Linked DNA regions of Homo sapiens. The protein of the gene in region 1 interacts with the protein of each later gene in a pairwise test. Each region holds a gene or a part of one and is shown on either strand. Other genes may lie near its edges.

What was found.
Region 2: the proteins of ZNF296 (region 1) and TOR1AIP1 interact in binary tests that used the Homo sapiens proteins (3 or more experiments, as listed by UniProt).

The regions. Positions count from the first base shown.
Region 1 is NC_000019.10:45,071,472-45,083,891, reverse strand, and holds ZNF296 (zinc finger protein 296), read left to right. Parts: upstream 1-7,413; 5' UTR 7,414-7,518; coding exon 7,519-7,816; intron 7,817-8,029; coding exon 8,030-8,179; exon of another isoform or gene 8,180-8,265; intron 8,266-11,311; coding exon 11,312-12,291; 3' UTR 12,292-12,392; downstream 12,393-12,420. UniProt on the Homo sapiens protein: May be a transcriptional corepressor with KLF4.
Region 2 is NC_000001.11:179,897,265-179,909,322, forward strand, and holds part of TOR1AIP1 (torsin-1A-interacting protein 1), read left to right. Parts: intron 1-2,861; coding exon 2,862-2,903; intron 2,904-2,997; exon of another isoform or gene 2,998-3,300; intron 3,301-4,037; coding exon 4,038-4,124; intron 4,125-6,701; coding exon 6,702-6,758; intron 6,759-10,558; coding exon 10,559-10,600; intron 10,601-11,340; coding exon 11,341-11,409; intron 11,410-12,058. UniProt on the Homo sapiens protein: Required for nuclear membrane integrity. Induces TOR1A and TOR1B ATPase activity and is required for their location on the nuclear membrane. Binds to A- and B-type lamins. Possible role in membrane attachment and assembly of the nuclear lamina.

The DNA.
Region 1 (12,420 bases):
CGAGGTGGCTCACACCTGTAATTCCAGAACTTTGGGAGGCTGAGGCAGGTGGATCACTTGAGCCCAGGAATTTGAGACCAGCTTGGGCAACATAGCAAAATCTCGTCTCCAGAAAAATAGAAAAATTAGCTGGGCAAAGGGTGCGCTCCTGTAGTCCCAGCTACTCAGGAGGCTGAGGTGGGAAGATCTAGTGAGCCGGAGGAGGCTGAGGCTGCAGTGAGATGTGATTGCACCACTGCACTCCAGCCTGGGAAGAGTGAGACCCTGTCTCAAACAAAAAAAAAAAAAAAAAGAAGAAGAATTGGAAAAGAAAATGTGAAAAAGAGCTCTCCCTGGGAGGCATCTAAACCTCATCACCCACTCTGCATAATTAGCTGCCAAATCTTACTGATCTCACATGCCCATAGGTGGCCCAAATAGAATCCTCCTTGGCAAAATTGTTTTGGGGATGGAGTCTCACTCTATCCCCCAGGCTGGAGTGCAGTGGTGCAATCTTGGCTCATTGCAACCTCTGCCTCCTGGGTTCAAGCAATTCTCCTGCCTCAGCCTCCTGAGTAGCTGGGATTACAGGTGCGCGCCACCATGCCTGGCTAATTTTTGTATTTTAGTAGAGACAGGGTTTCACCATGTTGGCCAGGCTGGTCTACATCTCCTGGTCTCAGGTGACCCACCCCCAGTTCAGCTTCCCAAAGTGCCGGGATTACAGGCGTGAGCTACCGCGCCCAGCGGGCAACATATTTTCAATTTTAACTTTATTTTATTTTTCTTCTTGGCAAAATACGTAGCAGAGGTCTGCGAACCTTCTCTGTAAGTATTTTACTGTCACTGCTCAACTCTGCCACAGTAGCACAACAGCAGCCATAGACAATATGGAAACAAATGAACATGGCTGTTCTCCAACAAAACCTTACTTACTGGGACACTGAAATTTGAATTTTATATCATTTTTATGCACCAAAGAAAAGTTTTCTAGCCAGGTGCGGTGGCTCACAACTATAATCCCAGCACCTTGGGAGACTGAGGCTGGAGAATTGCTTTAGCGTAGGAGTTCAAGACCAGCCTGAGCAATATAGCAAAACCCCATCTCTACAAAAAAAAAAAAAAATTAGCTGGGCATGGGTAGTGTGCGACTAGAGTCCCAGCTACTAAGGAGACCGAGGTGAGGGGATCGCTTGAGCCTGGTAGGTGGAGGCTGCAGTGAGCCATAACTGTGCCACTGTACTCCAGCCTGGGTGACAGAGTATGAGACCCTGTCTCAAAAAAAAAAAAATTCACTCATCCACATTATCTAGCATTGTTAGCACATCATCTGAGTGCCTGCTCTGTGCATGACCCACATTGGGCGGTCTTGGAAACACGTCTAGGACTGAGAGCCCAGTTCCGCCTTTGTGGGCTCACAGTCCAATAGGGGACACAGACCTGTCCTTAGGCAGTGATGACCCAAAGTGAGTAGGGCTGGAATGAAGGAGTCCAGAGGAGACACCTGACCCAGCCTGGGGGATAGAGGGTAGTTTCAAGGGAGCCCAGGAAAGATCCCTATGATAAGATTACGTTTGAGCATAGACCTGAATGAAATTAGGAATGGAGCCATGTGGAGATTCCAGTCAGAAGGAAGAGCAAAATGCAAAGATCATGGAAAGGGTGGCTTTGGGGCGTAGCAAGGCCAGTGTGGAGGAGGTGGGGGCAGGGACAGAGAGAGTGCCTTGTGGGCTGTGATGACAATTTGGGTCTCTACTCTGAGACTGAAGCCACTGGACAGTTCTGAGTGAAGGATGGGCAGAATCTGGCTTAAGGTCCTCAGGATCCTCTGCCTGCTGCATGGACAATAAACGAGATTGAAGGGAGACACTAGGAACGCAATGAGGAGGTCACTGTAGTGGTCCAGGTGGAAGAAGATGGCGTCTAGTATGGGCTGGGGACAATGGGAATGGGGAGAAGTGGTCAGATTAGGCTATGTTTGAAAGGTCGAGGCTGGGCGCAGTAGGTCACGCCTGTAATCCCAGCACTTTTGAAGGCTGAGGTGGGTAGATCGCCTGAGGTCAGGATGAGACCAGCCTGGTCAACATGGTGAAACCTCTCTCTACTAAAAATACAAAAGTTAGCTGGGTGTGGTGGTGCGTGCCTGTAATCCCAGCTACTCGGGAGGCTGAGGCAGAAGAATCGCTTGAACCCGGGAAGCGGAGGTTGAAGTGAGCGGAGATCGTGCCATTGCATTCCAGCATGGATGACAGAGTGAGACTCCATCTCAAAACAACAAAAACAAACAAAAAAAGAAAGGTCAAGAGCCCTCGGTGATGGACAGGATAAGGGATATATAATTTGAGGGAAAGAGCAGCCAAGGGAGACTCCAAGGTTTTTTTTTTTTTTCCTGACAGGGAAGACCACGTGAATGGAATTAAGGGATAGTTGCATTTTCTAATTTTTTTTTTTTTTTTAAGACGGAGTCTCACTCTTGTCGCCCAGGCTGGAGTACAGTGGCATGATCTCAACTCACTGCAACCTCCGCCTCCCGGGTTCAAGCAATTCTCCTGCCTCAGCCTCCCAAGTAACTAGGACTACAGGCGCGCACCACTGCACATGGCTAATTTTGTATTTTTAGTAGAGACGCGGTTTGGCCACGTTGGCCAGGCTGGTCTCAAACTCCTGATCTGCCTGCTTCAGCCTCCCAAAGTGCTGGGATTACAGGCATGAGCCACCGTGCCCGGCCTTGCATTTTCTAATTTTTTAAAAAGCACATTTACTTATTTATTTACTTTGAGGTGAGGTCTCGCTGTATTGCCCACGCTAATCTTGAACTCCTGGACTCAAGATATCCTCCCACCTCAGCCTTCCGAGAAGCTGGGATTACAGGCCCACGCCAACACGCCCTACTTGCATTTTTTATTTTCTCTGACCACTGTCACTCCAATTTAGTCAGGCCTCACCAGCCCCCAGGGTCTTTCCTGAGCCTAGATTAACACTTGAGTTTCAAGAGAAACCCCCTAGTCTCTAGGGTGAGTACTTACTAAATGACTTAGATAGGATTAGAGTGGCCAAAGAATTCTGTTAAATCCCTGGATAAAATGAAATTAAGGGAGGGCCAGTATAGGGCCTTGTTTTCTCCATCAGGAAAAAAAAAAAAAAAAACAAAAAACAAGGGAGATTTGGTCATATTGATGCAATCCCCATTTTTGTAAAGTGGCCAGTGAAGCTGGCAGGTCAAATCTTTCCTCGGGCTGGGTGCAGTGGTTCACACCTGTAATCCCAGCACTTTGGGAGACTGAGGGAGGCAGATCACCTGATGTCAGGAGTTTAAGACCAGCCTGGCTAACATGGTGAAACCCTATCTCTACTAAAAATACAAAAAAAATTAGCTGGATGTGGTGGCACGCATCTGTAATCCCAGCTACGCAGGAGGCTGAGGCAGGAGAATCCCTTGAACCAGGGAGACGGAGGTTGCAGTGAGCGGAGATCACGCCTCTGCACCCCAGCCTGGGCCACAGAGTGAGACTCTGTTTCAAAAAAAAAAAAAAAAAAATCATTTCCTTGGTGCAAGCTGGAGGGTGGAGGAAGAGGGAGCAAACTCTGGTCCTCACCCGTGCCCCATGTAGAAAGGCAGACTGTGGAGCCAAGGTGTGACCTGATAAGAAACTGGTTTAAGAAAGATCACACAGGGTGTGCCCAGGAGGGTAGAGGCAGGCGTTATCCATTGTCCCTGGTGACCTGGCCCCAGAGGCCTTTATCCTTTCAGTCTCCAAGGCAAGGATTTCCGAAGGTTTCAGGGAAAAATGCCCAAGCCCATCCCCCACGACTTGAAAAACTAGTCTGTTAGATTCAAGAGCCCAACACTTAGGTCAATGGCAGGGGCAGGGGTTTCACAGACCTCCCTCCTGGTGGCCCCGGTGCTCCAGAGAGGAGATCAGCTCAGTGGACAAACATTTGGCCAACTCTTCACAATTGCCAGGGTGTGGAACCAGCTGAGTTGTCAACAGAGAAGCCGCCAGACCTAATTAATTAACCAAGGTGTTGACGTGTCCACAGACACACACACACATACAGACATCATCGGCTGCTGAATCTTGATGCAAATTAGCTAAATGGGGCCACCCGAGAGGGTCAGAACCCCAAGCACAGAATCTCTCCCCTCCCCTTCTCCCCTGGGGCCGGTCAGTTTCCTTTCAATTCCGCCCTGACCACCCATTGCTCTCCTTTTCTTATACTAAGTAGGTCCTCCCGGCCCCCAGGCGTCCACTCCCCACACCGCCCTGGGCGTTCGGACTGGACCTTCTTCCCACCTCCAGGCTCAGACTGAGCGAGCGATTCCGCTCCAGGTAAAGCGGGATGACTGCCACCGATGCTTCTGTTATCGTGGCCATTTATTATTTTCCGGAGGGGAAGTTTTTCTCCTTCTCCCTTCTCCTCACCCCACCCGCGTGGGGCATTCCCGCTGCCGGCGATCGGGATCAAACAGTCCCTGATAGGAGCGTCTGGGGACCAGAACGTCCCTCCAGCCGGCGCTGCAGGCGCGGTCCTACCTCTTTCCGTCACTCAGGGCGTTGCACTGGGGTGAGCGTCCAGAGCTGGGGCCGGGGAGAGGGAACCTGCTGGCGACCCCCCACCACCTTGTACTCACCGAGGTCCGCGGCTACTGGTGTCCCCACTTCCGCCGGCGCCCCCGCTGCAGAGGCCCGGGCAGGCCGCAAGCCGCGGAGCCTGGGTTCCGCCCGCGCCGCCGCCACTGCCCCACGTGGTCGCGGGCTGGCTCGCAGGCTTGGAAGCCAGCACAGCCCGGGTCGCCACCTGGCCCGCGGCTTTGCGGGGCACTTGGGACCGATCTTCCTGCCTGCGAGTTGGGGGCGTCTGGGATGCCCATTTTAGGCAGGAAGAAACTGAGGTTCAGAGAGGGGAAGACTTCCTCCCTGCTGGGTTAAGGGCAGAGCTCGGTCTTTGCATCCCCATCCCCCTACACATACCCACTCCTAACCCCTTGCTTCCAGTGGGAACCCCCGCTCCTCTACAGGAAACCTGGAGATCATGGTTTCAGATGCCGCATACTAAGAAAGTAGCTGGGCTGGATCAGAGGCGGTCATTTTGTCCTCCAGCTCTCCCTGCAGTCCCATTTTACAAAGGGGGAAACTGAGGCCTTGAATGGGGAATATGAACCTCCCTATTCCAGGCCCAGTCAGAATTCACTTTCTCCTTGCGGGGTCCTCTTTACGCAGGGATCCTGTGGGCCTTTGCTTTCCACTAGATCACCAAGGCCTAGTGCCAGGTACACAATTTGGTGCTCTGCAAATATCTGTTGAAAGAATATCATCAGACACATAGTAGGTGCGCAATAAATATTTGTTGACTTAACTATGAACGAGTAGGGGTTGTATTTATGAACAAGACAGACTCCCATCCTGCCTCCTAGAACCTACGTTCTAGTGGGGGTAGAAGGGACAGAATAGGGTAAAATGAGCAAATATGTAAACAAGATCCTTCAGGGTTTGATCAAAGTGATGTATAAAGAATAAAATAGGCCGGGCACGGTGGCTCACGCCTGTAATTCCAGCACTTTGGGAGGCTGAGGCGGGTGGATCACCTGAGGTCAGGAGTTCGAGACCAGCCTGGCCAACATGGTGAAACCCTGTCTCTACTAAAAATAGAAAAATTAGCCGGGCATCTGTAATCCCAGCTACTCCGGAGGCTCAGGCAGGAGAATCACTTGAACCCGGGAGGCGGAGGTTGCAGTGAGCTGAGGTCGTGCCACTGCACTCCAGCCTGGGCAACAAGAGTGAAACTCCATCTCAAAAAAAAAAAAAAAAAAAAAGAGTAAAATAAGGGCAATGGGATAGTGGGTGGCTGGGTTGCCATGGAACTTAAAATTGGGTGGTCTGAGGCTGAGTGCAGTGTCTCACACCTGTAATCTCAGCACTTTGGGATGCTGAAGCAGGAGGAGCGCTTCAAGCCAAGAGTTTCAGACCAACCAGGGCAACAAAGCGAGTCCCTGTCTCTATTTAAAAATAATTTTTTTTGAAAAATTAAAAATTACAAAAAAAAAAAGGGTGATCAGAGGAGGCGGCAGTGAAGAAGAAACCACCTCAGATAACCCTCTAGTTCCAACCTGCCCTACCTCCTTTGACAGATGGAGAAAGTGAGATCCAAGAGGGAACTGGGGACAGATGGAGGTCATGGAGTGTAATTTGCAAGGCCTTCAGCAGGGTGGGGCTACTTTAGATACTGTTGGTCAGGGCCCTCTGCTCTCAGGAGGACAATGGAACCCAGACCTGAATAACAATGTGCAGAACTCCAAGAGATCAGCATCTGAAATCAGCATCTGGGCTGAGGACAGCTGGGGGAGGACAGGTTCTTGCCCTGACCTCAGGGGGCTTGCATTGGGTGGGGGAGAGGACAGTCCACAAGCCGTTCTATACTGTCGTGCAGTCGGTGCCAGGAAGAAAAGAATACTCATCAGGGATTGAGGGTGGGGCAGGGTGTCGATGCCACTTCAAACAGTGAGCAGACAGAACTGCTTAGGGGAGGGAAGTTCAAGGAGGCGGAGTGGAGGCAGGTGAGCTGCTTGGCTATTTGGTTTTAATGGCGACTTCTGGTCTAGGAACAGAGTCGATGTGTATGATTACAGTCCTCCTCTGCTCAAAACCCTCCTAAGGCTCCGGTCTCAGGAAAACCAAAAGACCTTAAAGCGATCAAAAGATTGCTTGGATCTGCCCCCATATTTTCACTGAACTCAATCCCCAACCCGTATTGCCTCTCCCTTTCCTTGTAATTCCTCAATGCCCAGGCCCACTGGCTGGGCTTCCTTCCCTCCAGCCTCAGCTCCACCATGCCCTTTCCCATCATAGGGGAGAAAATTGAATCCCTCAACCCCAGTAACCCTCTCCGCCTTTCCAGCTTTCTTTTGCTCCATGGCACTGGTCATCATGAAGGGCCATCTATATTTTACGTAATTATGTTTATAGTGTCTTCCCCCACCGTCTGAACTCCGTGCAAACAAAGATTATCTTCTGTTTATTCCCTCCTGTATTCTCAGGGCTTCAAACAGAGCCTGGCGCACAGGAGGCACTCAGTGAATGCTTGCAAAATGAATTTTTATTGTAATGCATTTAATGAAATAGCCCAGATTACTATCAGGCACCTAATAAGAAACGTGACCGACTATTTTTCTCGCTTGGGGGTGCGTGTGGGCATGCCGTGTCTCAGTTTCACCCGCCCTAAAACGGGATCAGGGATAGCTGTTTCAATGCCTTGTGGGAACTCGGTGTGATTAAATTTGGTCACTAAGCCAAACGCACGGGACACTGCCTAGATTGAGTTAGGCCGCCGTCAGGGCCCCAGCAGGGCGGCTCGGTCCCCTCCCATGAGCCCCGCCCTGGTAGGCGGAGCCACGGGCCCGGCCAGCACGTGTAAGAGTTCGCGGCGGGTCGCCGCAGTCACTCACCTGAGCGCGCACGGTCCGCGCGTCCTCCGCTCGTGCGTCCTCCGCCCGCCCGCCTGCCTGCCTGCCCGCCCGCTCGCTCGCCCGGCCCGCGACTCATGTCCCGCCGCAAGGCCGGCAGCGCGCCCCGCCGAGTAGAGCCCGCGCCCGCCGCCAACCCAGACGACGAGATGGAAATGCAGGACCTCGTCATCGAACTCAAGCCCGAGCCAGACGCGCAGCCCCAACAGGCCCCAAGGCTGGGGCCCTTCTCCCCGAAGGAGGTGTCCTCGGCGGGGCGGTTCGGCGGCGAACCCCACCACTCCCCTGGCCCCATGCCCGCCGGGGCCGCCCTCCTCGCCCTCGGCCCGCGGAACCCGTGGACCCTGTGGACGCCGTTGACCCCGAACTATCCCGGTGAGCACCCCGGGCCCTGGGCCCAGCCTCCCTTACCTTTGACCCTCGGGTGGGACCCTTCCCTTTGGGCATGGGCCCCTCGCCCTGCCTTATCTCCTTCGCCCCGTCCTGCCCCTCAGGCCCCCTTCTGACCTTCGGTTTCCCCTCTCCTTCAGCACCCTCAGCCCCCATCCTGGCCCCACCCCACGCTCACCACCCGCTTCCTCCCTGCAGACCGCCAGCCCTGGACCGACAAACACCCAGATCTGTTGACCTGCGGCCGCTGCCTGCAGACCTTCCCGTTGGAGGCCATCACTGCCTTCATGGACCACAAGAAGCTGGGCTGTCAGCTCTTCAGAGGCCCCAGCCGCGGCCAGGGCTCAGGTGAGTAAAGCCGGGTGCAGTCCCCCTCTCAAGTTCGAGGGCTGGGCTTCCTGCTGGAAAGGGGCTGGGCTGGACGGCAGGGCACTGAGCACTACTTCCCCTTTCTCGCTCCCCATCGGGTGCAGCCTAGGCGTGGCCAGGGCCTGCCCGTCCTAGGGCAGGGACCAGTGGTGGCGGTGGAGGGGGGGCGGGGGGGGACTGGGCAGGGAAGGAGGGCCGCCTACAGGGTGTGGCCAGCCCCAGAAGACTAGCCCGGGATTTTGCCCCCCCCAACACACACCCCAACCTGGTTTCACTTCTCCTTCCCCTTGGCCAGAAATAACTGGCCAGGTGGCTGGACCAGGGTGGCAGTAGGAGGGGACCTCTAGGGAGGGCAGCGGCCGGGGGGAGGGGGAGTGGAGGCCAGCTGGAATGGGGAGGTTGCCACCCCCTCCTGTCTCTCTCTGTCAATTCTGATTGAGGTGCTAGTACAGCTGAGTGTTCAGAGCCAAGGAAGGGGCTTCTGGCTTCCCTCGGTGATGGAATCTCCCAGCCCCGCGTGCTGGGAATCCCCTGGTTTGAGCGAGCTCCCGGGTGCTGGACACCCGGGTTCCTTCTCTTGGGAGGGAATTAAAAGCCTTCACATGGGGCTTGACCCTCGGTGAGCTTTTGGTCAGTGTTGGCTGCAGGGCTTAATCCAAACCTAGTTTCCAGCCCCCTGGCCCTTGCCCTTCTGAGACTTTTGAGAAGTGGAATTATTTAGGGTTGGGCCAGGGAGGGTCTGGTGGTGGGAAAGAGGAGGGGCTTGTGACTGATTGAATCAGCTTTAGAGCTGGAGCATGGAGAGTGGCCTGGAGGAGCGAGCGAGGGGCTGTGATGGAATCGCTGGAACAAAACACTACAGGGCTTGGAGAATCATGGGCACCTTGGTTTCACAGGCTCTGCTGTTTGAGCGCTTATGTGGACCAAAGCTCTCAACCATTCCCCAAGCGAGGTCACAACCACCCTTGAAAGGGAGGGGATCTCTAGGGTCCCTGAATTCTAGCAACTGAGGCACACAGAGGACTATGTCTTGCCCAAGGTCACACAATTAGGGAGCAGAGAAGTCTGAATTTGAATGCAGGCCTGTGCTCTTGACCCAGGACTGGTTGTATCACAAAGGTTGTCCCATCCAAGACTCTAGAATTTGAAAAATGGAAAGGCTAGTTCACCTAGGAAGTGTCCACTGAGAGTACCCCGAAGGTCCAGATAGAAATCCAAATTCAGGTTTGGGGGCTCAATTTGAGATCCATGCAGAGGGTGGGGGACCCAGGTCACTACCACCTCTTTACTAGGTGGCCGCTAAGCTTTCTCTGTAGCTACCCCATTATTTTGAGGTGGAGTCTTACTCTGTCACCCAGGCTGGAGTGCTGTGGTGCAATCTCAGCTCACTGCAACCTCCGCCTCCCAGGTTCAAGTGATTCTCCTGCCTCAGCCCTCCAAGTAGCTGGGACTACAGGCGTGCACCACCATGGCCAGCTAATTTTTGTATTTTTGGTAGAGACAGGGTTTCACCATGTTGACCAGGCTGGTGTCTCAAACTCCTGACCTCAGGTGGTCCACCTGCCTTGGCCTCCTGAAGTGCTGGGATTACAGGCATGAGCCACCATGCCCAGATATCTCAATTACTTTAAAAATTATTTTTATTAAACCAAAAAAAATTTTTTTTTTTGAAACAGAGTCTCGCTTTTGTCACCCAGGCTGGAGTGCAGTGGTGGGATCTCGGCTCACTGCAACCTCCGCCTCCTGGGTTCAAGCGATTCTCCTGCCTTAACCTCCCAAGTGGCCGGGATTACAGGCGCGCACCACCACACCCGGCTATTTTTTATTTTTACTAGAGACAGGGTTTCATCATGTTGGCCAGGCTGGTCTCAAATCCCTGACCTCAAGAGATCAACCCGCCTCAGCCTCCCAAAGTGCTGGGATGACAGGTGTGAGCCACCGTGCCCGGCCTAAACCAAAAATCTTATTCAAAAGCCTCTGCTCCCAGCCAGGTATGGTGGCTCACGCCTATAATCCCAGCACTTTGAGGGGCTGAGGCGGAAGGATTACTTGAGGCCATTAAGTTAAAGAATAGCCTGGGCGGCCGGGTGCGGTGGCTCAAACCTGTAATCCCAGCACTTTGGGAGGCTGAGGCGGGCAGATCATGAGGTCAGGAGATCGCGACCATCCTGGCTAACACGGTGAAACCCTGTGGCGTGGTGGCTGAGGCAGGAGAATGGCGTGAACCCCGGAGGCAGAGCTTGCAGTGAGCCGAGATCGCGCCACTGCACTGCAGCCTGGGCGACAGAGCAAGGCTCCGTCTCAAAAAAAAAAAAAAATAGCCTGGGCAACATAGCAGGACCCCATCTCTTTAAAAAATACTAAATTAAAAATTTAAAGCAAAAAAAAAAAAGCAAGCAAGCCTCTGTTCTGCCCTCTCCCCCTCCCCCAGTAGTCTGGATTGAAATCCCAGCTTCACCCCTTCCAAGCTGTGCAACCCTGGGGAAATGCCTCTCTGTGCCTCAGTTCTCCTGTCTGGAAAATGGAGATCTTATTTTCCTGTCCTGAGGGAAAGCCGGGCTATGAGCCATGGCTCAGCACCTAGCATGTAGGAAGCGCTTACTGAGTTAACATAACTTTTTAAAAGATTTTCAAACACATGGCCCAGCACAGTGGCTCATGCCTATAATCCCAGCACTTTGGGAGGCCGAGGTGGGTGGATCACTTGAGGCCAAGAGTTCGAGACCAGCCTGGCCAACACGGTGAAACCCCCATCTCTACTAATTAGCCAGGCATGGTGGCGGGCGCCTGTAATCCCAGCTACTCTAGAGGCTGAGGCATGAGAATAGCTTGAATCCAGGAGGTGGAGGTTGCAGTGAGCTGAGATCGTGCCACTGCACCCCAGCCTGGGCGACAGTGAGACTGTCTAAAAAAAAATGTTTTCAGGTACTTAGCACCCACTCCACAGATTTTTCGTGTCCACCCCTCCTCTGAGCGTCAGCTTCCTGGTCCTTCCAGGGTGTGTGTGTCTTGTTACTGCCAAGTCCTTTGCCCCTGCAGGAGTGCCTATCCCACAGAAGGTGTCCAGCTGGCAGCTGTCCGCACTAACACTCTGCCTCTTTTTCTTACCAGAACGAGAGGAGCTGAAGGCCTTGAGCTGCCTGCGCTGTGGCAAACAGTTCACAGTGGCCTGGAAGCTGCTGCGTCACGCCCAGTGGGACCACGGACTGTCCATCTACCAGACAGAATCAGAGGCCCCGGAGGCCCCGCTCCTGGGCCTGGCCGAGGTGGCTGCAGCCGTGTCGGCAGTGGTGGGGCCAGCAGCTGAGGCCAAGAGCCCCCGTGCAAGTGGCAGCGGCCTCACCCGGCGGAGCCCCACCTGTCCTGTGTGCAAGAAGACCCTCAGCTCCTTCAGCAACCTCAAAGTGCACATGCGCTCACACACAGGCGAGCGGCCCTATGCTTGCGACCAGTGTCCCTACGCCTGCGCCCAGAGCAGCAAGCTCAACCGCCACAAGAAGACCCACCGGCAGGTGCCGCCCCAGAGCCCCCTCATGGCCGACACCAGCCAGGAGCAGGCCTCTGCAGCCCCTCCGGAGCCGGCTGTCCATGCTGCTGCCCCCACCAGCACCCTTCCATGCAGCGGTGGTGAGGGGGCTGGAGCCGCCGCCACAGCAGGTGTCCAGGAACCCGGGGCTCCTGGCAGTGGGGCTCAAGCCGGCCCTGGTGGAGACACTTGGGGAGCCATCACCACGGAACAAAGAACTGACCCTGCAAACAGCCAGAAGGCATCACCCAAAAAGATGCCCAAGTCAGGGGGCAAGAGCCGCGGGCCCGGGGGCAGCTGTGAGTTCTGCGGGAAGCATTTTACCAACAGCAGCAACCTGACGGTGCACCGGCGCTCACACACCGGGGAGCGCCCCTACACCTGTGAGTTCTGCAACTACGCCTGCGCCCAGAGCAGTAAGCTCAACCGCCACCGCCGCATGCACGGCATGACGCCTGGCAGCACCCGCTTCGAGTGCCCCCACTGCCATGTGCCCTTCGGCCTGCGAGCCACCCTGGACAAACACCTGCGGCAGAAGCACCCTGAGGCGGCCGGCGAGGCCTGAGCCCAGGAAAGCCCCCCTCACTGTCCCTGGTACCGCTGCCAACACCCATTGACCTCCTCGTTTTTGCCCGCCTTCTCCAAGTAAATTTTCCCTTTTATTTACACCCGTCTGGACTCTGGCTTTCTTGGG
Region 2 (12,058 bases), on another chromosome or scaffold:
AAATGGGGAGCTCCCTTATGTAAGCTGGCTAAAAAATAATTATTAAACCATCTCTCCATGCTAATTAGATAACACATAGATAAGCAGAAAAAAGATTGAATTTTAGGCAACTTGGTATATGGAGAAATGACTGTTAAATGAATTGGCTCTAGACAAATTGACCTGGAACTTCAAATGTGTACAGAAATAAAACATATCTTCAAATGTATACAGATAAAACATACCTATCGAAAAAAGGGATTACTGTATTAGTCATACTACTGTACTGTGTACTGTACTGTACTATTCTGATAGCTCAACAAATGAATGTAAATCTCCAACATATCCTTTCCATTATTATAGATTCTAAAATCTATTCAGCCCTAGTTAAAGAGGTTTTGTCTACCATATAATTTTTAGAGTAACTATGTAAAACATAACACTGAAATATAAATGGGACCTTAGTAAAGCCTACTGTATTACATGAATTACACTTAGAAGTTTATTGGAACCTCTCATATTAGGAAAAGTTCAGCTGTCAGCCGTTTCTTTATTCATCTATTCAAAAAATTGGCCAAGTGCAGTGGCTCATACCTGTAATGCCAGCACTTTGGGAGGCTGAGGCAGGCAGATTACTTGAGCTCAAGAGTTCGAGACCAGCCTGGGCAACATGGCAAACAAAACCTTGTCTCTACAAAAAGTATAAATATTAGCAGGGTGTGGTGACATGTGCCTGTAGTCCCAACTACTCAGGAGGCTGAGGTGGAAGGATGGCTTGAGCCTGGGAGGGAGGGGTTGCAGTGAGCCAAGATCACACCACTGCACTCCAGCCTGGACGACAGAACCAAACCATGTCTCAAAAAAAAAAAAATTATTGAGTGTTTACTATGTGCTGTTATGAACAAGACTGATGAGGTGGTAGGATTGTAATAGACTGGAAGTCAGAAGAACCTGCGGTCTTCTGGCTTTTTTTATTATTAAATTAGACCTATACCCTTAGACAAGTCACTTGATATCTATGAACCTTACTTATGAAAATCTTCCCTTATGATGAGATGGGAATCAGATGACATTCATGAAGGGTTTTTTGAAAATCAAATAGCATCATGCAAATATTAAGGACTTAGCATTTTAAGATAATAACAAAAATATGATTATTGATTCTTAAGAAAGCATCTTGTATTTGCATGCTATGTGAATAGTTACATAAATGAATAAAGTAAAACTGCTATACAAAAATATGAAGTACTATAATAATTATGCACTTAGATAATAAAACTTCAAAAAGAGAACAATACCTTTTTGTAGGAATGGAAATATTAATTAAAAATTTTTGGCCAGCTGTGGAGCTCATGCCTGTATTACAGTCTCAGTACTTTAAGAGACCAAAGTGCTGGGATTACAGGCTAGGAGATGGGAGGATTGCTTGAGGCCAGGAGTTTGAGACCAGCCTGGTCATGATGTAAAACCCCATCTCTTGTTTTAAATTAAAATCTTAAAAAAAATTTTTTTCGTTTGACTTTTCCTTTTTCTCCCTCAAAAAAGAGAAAAAGAAAGGACAGTGTTCCTAAGAAACCTAGAGCAAAATAGTACTTAATACACCAGAGTCTAGCTCTTTAAGAGTAACATGGTGTTATCAGCAGTTTTCTCTGGGTTAGTTTTTTTTTTTAAATAAAAAAATGTTGGCAAATATATTTCAGATACTGATTTGCACTTGCCACTGTCAAGAGGAAGTATTTTCAGTGGAACTCAAAGCTTGACTAGTATTATACTAATCTAATTAAATGGATTTAAAATAAATATTTTCAAATTCACCGTATAATGTGTTAGCAGTTGCTTTCTATAATACTATTGTCCCTTTTAATAAGCAAATTGAGGTTAAAATCAGTAGAGATAAAAGCTGAAATTTTCTCAGCTTTGTTGAAGAAGTCTAAATCATGCTACTTCTCTACATATGATCCTTCAGCGATATTTTAACCCAATTGTGAAATACCTGCATTTGGGTACATCTCACTATTTTTTTTTTTTTTAAGTTTCAGAATAGCCCATGTAAAAATACTATGTTCCAAGTTTATTTGATGTGTTTTGCTTGTTTATTTTTGTTCAAATTCTCTTTTGCACTGGAAAACAGTGACATACATGGACCCGCCAGAACTAGAAGTTTCTTTACCTTTCTTCCTCTTTGGATACACCAATGCTCGAAAGAACTGGGTTATCAGTCCAGTTAGTGTAGTTGGTTTTTAAAGGGAGTATAGGGGATTTGGCAAATAAGAGAATGAGAATATAGCAAACCTATACACACTAGAATATTTGTCAATGTAGAATTTAATGTTTTTTTTGCATACAAAGGTTACATTTTAGAGTAAAAATAGACCTGTGACTGAAGGAAAATTAAACACTTCATTTCCTTTTTCTGTTTGAGACAGAGTCTTGCTCTGTCGCCCAGGCTGGTATACAGTGGCGCGATCTCGGCTCACTGCAACCTCTGCTTCCCAGGTTCAAACTATTCTCCTGCCTCAGCCTCCCGAGTAGCTGGGATTACAGGCACACACCACCACTCCTGGCTGATTTTTGTATTTTTAGTGGAGACAGGGTTTCACCATGTTGACCAGGCTGGTCTCAAACTCCTGACCTCAAGTGATCCACCCACCTCGGCCTCCCAAAGTGCCGGGATTATAGGCGTGAGCCACTGCACCCGGCCAATTCTTAGTGATTTAACAGAAAAAGAATTTATTTAATGTGTCCTCATGTTCATTTTCCTAAACGAGATGCTCTTTTATTTATTCCTAAGCTTTAACTTTTTTCCTAAGCTTTTGTTTATTCCTAAGCTTTAACTTTTGATGTTATATGTTTAATATTTGATGTATGCTTTTTTCTTCTAGAAGCCACCAGTGTCCAACAGAAGGTCAATTTCTCTGAAGAAGGTATTTTACTTGTAAATATCATATAATATATACTTTAAGTCTTTTTCTTTACATTAGAAGCCATTCTGATAGATATTTAAGAAGTGGGAACAGAGCCGGGGACTGTGGCACATGCCTGTAGTCTCAGCTACTCGGGAGGCTGAGGCAGGAAGATCACTTAAGTCCAGGAGTTCTGGGCTGTCTGTAGTGCACTATGCCGATCAGGTGTCTGCACTAAGTTTGGCTTCAATATGGTGACCTCCCGGGAGCGGGGGACCACCATGTTGCCTAAAGAGGGGTGAATCCATTCAGTTCAGAAACGGACCAGGTCAAAACTCCCGTGCTGATCAGTAGTGGGATTGCAACTGTGAATGGCCACTGCACTCCAGCCTGGGCAACCTAGTGAGAGCCCATCTCTTAAAAAAAAAAAAAACAAAAAGAAGTTAGAACAGAAAATAATGTGTTTTTCTTCAAGAAAAAAAATTCATGCTTATCTGAACTGTTAACTGGGCAGAAATAATAGGACAGATAGAATGAGTGATGACAGCCTTACATTTTAAGCATCTTTTGTCTATTTGGGTTCATTTTAAGCAAAGATAATATTTTCTATTATGGTATTAAAGTAATCAGTTTTCCAAATTCTCATAACCAGTTTATGTTTGAAAAGTACAGGAATAAAATTTAGTTTTTGTTGAAGCTCAGCATAATCTGAGGGTGGTCACCTGCATAATAGAATGTTTGTGTGCAGGTGTGTGTACACTACCCCTCTACCACCAACACACACACACAAATACACATCTGAATTTAACTACACACTAATTATATGTAGTTTTCCTCCCCATAAACTTTTTCCACTGTTTAACGCTCATCTGTTCATTTTTGACTCTACATTAAAGCCTTATAGTTTTTTAGATATTACTCTGAATATTTGTTTAGGAAAGTATTATGTGCCCCAGAGGACACAAATTGAGATAAATTTTAGTTCCTTTGGAACTTTGGGATTCAAAATAATAAGCATGATAAACAAACAGTAGTTCTATATCTGATAACTTAAAAGGCTTCTTTTAATGTTAAATTATTTGCTTGGTTTTTTTAAATTCAGATCTTCTGAGCATTAAAATAGACTATATTAGTATATTGTTTACTTCTCTTTAGGAGAAACTGAAGAAGATGATCAAGACAGCTCTCACAGCAGTGTCACTACTGTTAAGGCCAGATCCAGGGATTCTGATGAATCTGGAGGTAATATTGCTTTATATACATATGACTCTTCTCATAGAACTATCTTTGGTATTCCATGAATTTGCTTTTTAAAAAAAACTTTCAAATTTTTATTAATACTTTATAAAAAGTCGTGAATTTTTCTTTAAATATTTATTAAAATTACTGATTTCGTGTTCATCCGATTAATACTATGTCATGATATCTAAACAAATCACTTTTAGCTTTTTTTGATATTTGTGGAAAATAAGATATTTTTGTGCTCAAAAGAAGAGTTACTTGTTGTTTTTTGAATTTTATAGAGAAACTAATCACATTGCCATTGGGACTGACAACACTATCTGGAGTGTTACTTTTAGGAAGTTTTCATTTAATTATATAACTAGCTTTATCTCTGGATTTTCAAATTCAAACCAAATTATTAATTAACAAGTTCTGATTGTTTATGTGAATTTAAGTTTATTCAATGAAAGAGTTGACTAAAGAGAGAAAAATACCAGTTTGAGGCTTAAGATAATGTTGAACAAGACCCTCCCCCCCAAAAAAGATAATGCTAAACAAATTTGTAAACTCTGTAAATAATGAGTAATTTTATACTTTAGTCCTGCACTTTCCCTTCACCACCTCCTTAAAATTTCTGTAATTCCAATTCTTTTTTTTTTTTTTTTTTTTTTTTAAGGCAGAGTCTCACTCTGTCACCCATGCTGGAGTGCAGTGGCGCAATGTCGGCTCACTGCAGCCTCTGCCTCCTGGGTTCAAGTGATTCTCCTGCCTCAGCCCCCCAAGCAGGTGGGATTACAGGTGCGCACCACCACATCTGGCTAATTTTTGTATTTTTAATAGAGATGAGATTTCACCATGTTGGCCAGGCTGGTCTTAAACTCCTGACCTCAGGTGATCCACCTGCCTCTGCCTCCCAAAGTGCTGAGATTACAGGCCTGAGCCACGACGCCTGACCTGTAATTCCTATTCTTTACCTCATCATTTCACTTTAAAAATAAGTACATAAGCTGGTTTGGTTTTTGTTTTTATTTTTTTGAGACAGGATCTCTCTCTGTCACCCAGGTTTGAGTGCAGTGATGCGATCATGGCTCACTGCAGCCTCGACCTCCCAGGCTTAAGCAATTCTCCTGCCTCAGCCTCCCAAAGTGCTGAGATTATAGGTGTGGGCCACCGTGCCTGGCATTATACGCTGGTTGTTGGGCATTTGGTATTCTGTGTGTTTCCCACCCTTCCTCATTTTTCCTATGAATTCTTGATACAGAAATGGAGATTTGTAACACGCTGGTAGTGTCTAGCTAGAATTTCTGGGTTCCATTCCTTCACTTTTTAGCTGTTTGCCTTTAGAGAGTTATTTAACTTCTGTGTTCCTCAGTCTTGTCATCTGGATTGTTGTGGGGGTTAAATTAATTCATATATGCAAAGCACTTACCTGGCACATAGTAAACACTAAGTGCTGTTATTAGTGTTCATACATATTACATGAAGCTCTAAAAATTAGAGGTTAATTAAGCCATTTATATAGCCAATAGTTTGCTGCCATTGCTACCAGCATAACTATTTGGAAGTACATAAACCTCAGGTCCTGTGATTGCGCGATCGCACTTCAGCCTGGGCAACAGAGCGAGACTCCATCTCAAAAAAAAAAAAAATATGGGCACTTCACCTTTTTGTATCAATGTGTCTGTTTCCAAAACAGCAACCTGATCACTTTTAAACTAATTTAGTTATAAATTCTACTTTTATTTGGGAAAAAATGTTTTTAAGAAGAGTAGACTGAAAGCAAGGCATGGTGATAGGTACCTATAGTCCCAGATACTGAGGAGGCTGAGGCAGGAGGATCCCTTCAGTTCATGACCAGCCTGGGCAGTAACGTGAGACTCCATCTCTTAAAAAAAAAGAAGAAGAAGAAAGAAAGAAAAAGAGTATACAAAAATATTGCCCACTTGCAATAAAAATTTAAAGCAAAAATGGATATTAATGATTTCAAGATGCTCCACTGTTGTAAACTTTGAAAATTTTCCGCAACTCAAAGGTTTTATTATGTCATTACCTTGGGGCATGTTCTGTATCATAACAATTTTTTAAGTGGTTATTAGCTAATATTTTAGATGTGACATGACTCTTTAGAAACTTTTTTAACCTTTTTTTTTTTTTTGAGACAGAGTCTCACTCTCTTGTTCAGGCTGGAGTACAGTGGTGCGATCTCGGCTCGCTGCACCTCTGTCTCCCTGGTTCAAGCAGTTCTCCTGCCCTAAGGCCTCCCGAGTAGCTTGGATTACAGGCACGCGCCACCACGCCCAGATAATTTTTGTATTTTTAGTGGAGACGGGGTTTCACCACGTTGGCCAGGATGGTCTCAATCTCCTGACCTCAGGTGATCCGCTTGCCTCAGCCTCCCAATGTGCTGGGATTATAGGCAAGAGCCACTGCACCCAGCCTAGAAATTTTTTAAATAAATTATGCATCCACGTTTTTAACCACCTGGGAGTTACCCGAATATTTTTGCTCTTTTTATTAATTTCTCACTGTTGTCTTGTAAAATGTACAGTCTAAAAGTTGGATATTATTTATAGTGTACTGTTTTTTATTTTTTAGATAAAACCACCAGATCATCTAGTCAATATATAGAATCATTTTGGCAGTCATCACAAAGTAAGTAAAGCTGTGTTTACAGTGTCTTCCTGTGAGCTTGGTCAAATGATGTTCCTATTTTTGAAGATCCTCTTTTGAAATTTAACGTAAATATTGAACAAGAGGAATAATGAATGCTAAAAAAAAACTTATCCGATATCTCTCTACCACTTGACCTTGCTTATTGAGTTATTATTCTCTATACCCAAACCTGAATTTGAACTTAAAAAACAAACAAAAAACTACTACTTCCTGTGATTTGTTGAATGTCTTTGCTAGCAGTATAAATGGGTTGATTGCTTTTATTTTAACAGACTAATGTAGTAGTTTGAGCCTATTTATATGCACTTATTCTAATAAGGACATAAAATTTTATATTAGTACAATTTCAACTCTGTTGTAAAAGTTTGGAAGGATGAATAAATAAGTGATAAAGCACATGTAATAAAAAGTTAATGGCAAGCTTGGTTATGGGTATATAAATATTCATTTCAGTCTTACAACTGAAAATTTTTGTGATCAAATATTGAGAAAGTATAACAAAAAAAGATTGGAAAGTCATATACCAAAATGCTAATAATGATTTGCTTAAGAATCATTGGTGACATTTTTTTAACTTTATTATTTTCTTTTTTCTTTTTTTGAGACAGGTTTTCACTCTGTTACCCAGGCAAGTGTAGTGGTGCCGTCATGGTTCACTGTAGCCTCGAACTCCTGGGCTCAAGGGATCCTCCTGCCTCAGTTTCCTGAGTAGCTAAGACTACAGGCACGTGCTACCATGCCCAGCTAATTTTTAAATTTTTTGTAGAGACAGAGTCTCACTATCTTGCTCAGGCTGGTCTCAAACTTTTGGGCACAAGCATTCCTCCCACATCAGCCTCCCAAAATGCTGGGATTGCAGGTGTGAACCATTGCGCCCAGCCACCTTTATTATTTTGTTACTACTGTTTTTTTCTTTTGACATTTTTAAATCAAGTCTCCCAAAATCTGAGTTAGTTATTAATCAACCAAAAATATCTTTGTATGTAAAAATCTTCAAGAACTTTTTTTTTCTTCCACATTACTTTCTTTTCTTAAGAAAAAACTTTTGGAAGGCCAGGCGTGGTGGCTCATGCCTGTAATCCCAGCACTTTGGGAGACCAAGGCAGGCGGATCACTAGGTCAAGAGACCGAGACCATCCTGGCCAACATGGTGAAACCCCGTCTCTACTAAAAATATAAAAATTAGCTGGGCGTGGTGGCGCGTGCCTGTAGTCCCAGCTACTCGGGAGGCTGAGGCAGAAGAATGGCGTGAACCTGAGGGGGCAGTGCGGAGCTTGCCGTGAGCCGAGATTGTGTCACTGCACTCCAGCCTGGGCGACAGAGTGAGACCCTGTCTCAAGAAAAAAGAAAAAAAGAAAAAGCCTTTGGAAATCTTTTTTAAAATCATTGTATTTCTAGAATTCAATTTTATATTTTTTATTTTAATTTTTAATAGGTTCTGGGTTTGTGACTATAAAATGAGACATAAAATGAATTAGCTGCTGGGAAAAAATCAGTTGTGGAAAATTACTCTTCGAATTATTTTATGTATTTGCCCTATTTTACTCCAAATCTTTGATCTTTGGAAACTCTTAAATGTATCTACCCGTATAAATGATATTATACCCATGCAGTGAGATACTATTTAGTCTGGGGACGGTGGCTCACACCTGTAATCCCAGCACTGTGGGAGGCCAAGGCAGGTGGATCACTTGAGGCCAGGAGTTTGAGACCAGCCTGGCCAACATGGTGAAACCCCGTCTCTGCTAAAAATACAAAAATTAACCACGTATGGTGATAGGTGCCTGTAATCCCAGCTACTTGGGAGGCTGAGGCAGGAGAATCGCTTGAACCCAACAGGCAACGGCGGCAGTGAACTGGGATTGCACCACTGCACTCCAGCCTGGGTGACAGGGCAAGACTCCATCTCAAAAAAAAAGAAATACTATTTAGAAATGAAAAATGAGTTAGTTCATTGTATCCTAATGAAAAGTTGATCAAGATATATTTCATTGACTTTAAGATACTATTGATTTTATGTATCAATGAGAAAGAAAAACCATCCAGTTAAACTATGCCATACCATTAATTAAAAGATATATCTGTAGATCAAAGGGCATTTTTTAAAAAGTATGTCTTAGAATTTGATGAAAATATTAAAACGTATGTATCCACTTTTTTAAAAGTATATTTTTAGTATAGGCTGAAAACAAAGCTGAGAGAATATCTGTCTTATTTACCATAATATTTCTATGTTCAATGTTTTGCACATAGTAGATACTTAACAGATAGATATTCATGAATTTTTAAATTAAGCATTTCTAGAATGGCCCCTTTTTTTAAACAGCTAGCACATGTTTGTATTCAGAAAAAGTTGAAAATAAATAAATGTAAATCGATACTTGTATTTATCATCAAAGAGTAACTCATTTTCTCAGGGCAGATTTGAAAATTTACCTTGTTATAATTGTAATGTCATTTTTTAGTCATCCCATTGTGTCATTTTACAGTTATCCTTAAATACCACCTCAAAACCTGAAGTAGCATGTTTTACTTCATAGCTACTTTGCAATGTCCATAAATCTGCATAGATAGTACATACCATTTCTTTATGGTATGGTATGTGGTATATGATATGGACTGCCTGGATTTGTATCTCAGCCCAACTACTTTTAGATATATAATTTTGGAAAAATTACCAATTTTGGTTCCCCCCCCCCCTTTTTTTTTTTTGAGACAGAGTCTCGCTCTGTCGCCCAGGCAGGAGTGCAGTGGTGTGATCTCAGCTCACTGCAAGCTCCGCCTCCCAGGTTCACGCCCTTCTTCTGCCTCAGCCTCCCGAGTAGCTGGGACTACAGGCGCCCACCACCACGCCTGGCTAATTTTTTATATATTTAGTAGAGACGGGGTTTCACCGTGTTAGCCAGGATGGTCTCGATCTCCTGACCTCATGATCCACCTGCCTTGGCCTCCCAAAGTGCTAGGATTACAGGCATGAGCCACCGCATCCAGCTGATTTTCCCTTATTTATAAAATACGAACAGTAATAGCATCTACCACATAAGAATTAAGCAAAATTGGCTGGGCATGGTGGCTCATGCCTGTAATCCCAGCACTTTGGGAGGGCGAGGCAGGCAGAGCATTTGAGGTCAGGAATTTGAGACCAGCCTGGCCAACATGGTGAAACCCTGGTCAGGAGTTTGAGACCAGCCTGGCCAACATGGGGAAACCCTGTCTCTACTAAAAAGACAAAAAATTTGGTCAGGCATGGTGGTGCACACCTGTAATCCCAAGTACTTGGGAAGGTGAGGCAGGAGAATATCTTGAACCTGGGAAGCGGAGGTTGCAGTGAGCTGAGATTGTGCCACTGCATTCCAGCCTGGGTGACAGAGTCAGACCCTGTCTCAAAAAAAAAAAAAAAAAAAGAATTAAACAAAATTATACTTGATATATATGACTATATGTAGTTTTTATTTTGATGGTACTGATCCTAAACTAACTCCTTATTGTTGCCCAATTCCTAAACATTTTGAAGTTTAGAAATGAGGGGGAAAGAAATACACACACACTTTATATATATATATATATATATATATGTATATATATGTATATATATAGTATATGTATGTTTTTTATATATATATACTTTATATATTTATATGCTTGGAATTGATGAGAGAATGTTTTTTGTCTGTTGTTTGTTTTTAGTATCCACAGTAAACAAGCAAAATGTCTGTGCAACATCTTTTTTGTTGTTATTTTCAAGTATTCTATGACCTTATCCCTGTTTTCTGTTTCAGGTCAAAACTTCACAGCTCATGATAAGCAACCTTCAGTGCTAAGTAAGTAGTTGGTTGTCTGCTCTTTTTTCAGCCAATCAATTCTTTTCTCTTTTTTTTTTTTTTTTTTTTTGAGACGATGTCTTGCTCTGTCGCCCAGGCTGGAGTGCAATCTGGGCTCATTGCAAGCTCCACCTCCTGGGTTCACGCGATTCTCCTGCCTCCGCCTCCCAAGTAGCTGGGACTACAGGCGCCCGCCACCACGCCCGGCTAATTTTTTGTATTTTTAGTAGAGACGGTGTTTCACTGTGTTAGCCAGGATGGTCTTGATCTCCTGACCTCATGATCCACCTGCCTCGGCCTCCCAAAGTGCTGGAATTACAGGTGTGAGCCACCGCACCCAGCCTCAGTCAATCAATTCTAACCTTGCCTTATTCTCCCAACAAAAGTTGTAATAAGATTTTAAGTCATTTTACCCCTCTTTACCTTTTTAATTCACCACGGATTGGTACTACCTATAATAATTACTCTGTGATATGGAAATGTGTTCAGGGCTATTTTACCACAAGTAATTTGTATTATGTGATAATATATTTATTTGCTACCTGCTTTGCTGTAGGAAGTGGTTCATCCTCACTGATACGATCCTTTGAAATTATCTTTTACTTATAAAACTATTGCTTTTATTGTTTTCTTCCCCTACTTTATTTTGTCTTTCTGATAGATTAATTTTATAACACTGGAATATGGTATAAACTTTCAAAGTATGGGAAATTATCTTTTGATATATGTATTTGCTTCAGGCTCAGGATATCAAAAAACTCCCCAGGAATGGGCCCCACAAACTGCAAGAATAAGGACCAGGATGCAAAGTAAGTAGATAAATCTCTGTTATTGAAATAATCTTGTGTATTTGCTATGTTTTTCTTGACAAAAATATTTAGTTCTTCAGATAAACATTTAGGTTGTTTGTGATTTCACTAATAAAGTACAGCTATGATTACTAGTTTAGTAATTTCTTGGACTGGCAGCACATGGGCTGGGTGTAGAATGTAAATAGTGGCGTGAGAAAACCAGAGATTGGCCAGGTGCGGTGGCTCACGCCTGTAATCCCAGCACTTTGGGAGGCCGAGGTGGGTGGATCACGAGGTCAGGAGATCGAGACCATCCTGGCTAACACGGTGAAACCTCGTCTCTACTAAAAATATTTAAAAAAGAAAAATTAGCTGGGCGTGGCGGCGGGAGGCTACTCGGGAGGCTGAAGCAGGAGAATGGTGTGAACCCAGGAGGCGGAGCTTGCAGTGAGCCAAGATTGCACCACTGCACTCCAGCCTGGGCGACAGAGCGAGACTCCATCTGAAAAAAAGAAAAAAAAAGAGAAAACCAGAGATTGATGGATTTTAACAAGCTGTCAGTTATAGCAGCAATACAGTCTGTATACAATAATGAAATTCTACTCTTTTGACAATACTTATTTTTTGCTTTTAGCAGATTTTGGAACAGCTTTGTATACTCATAATT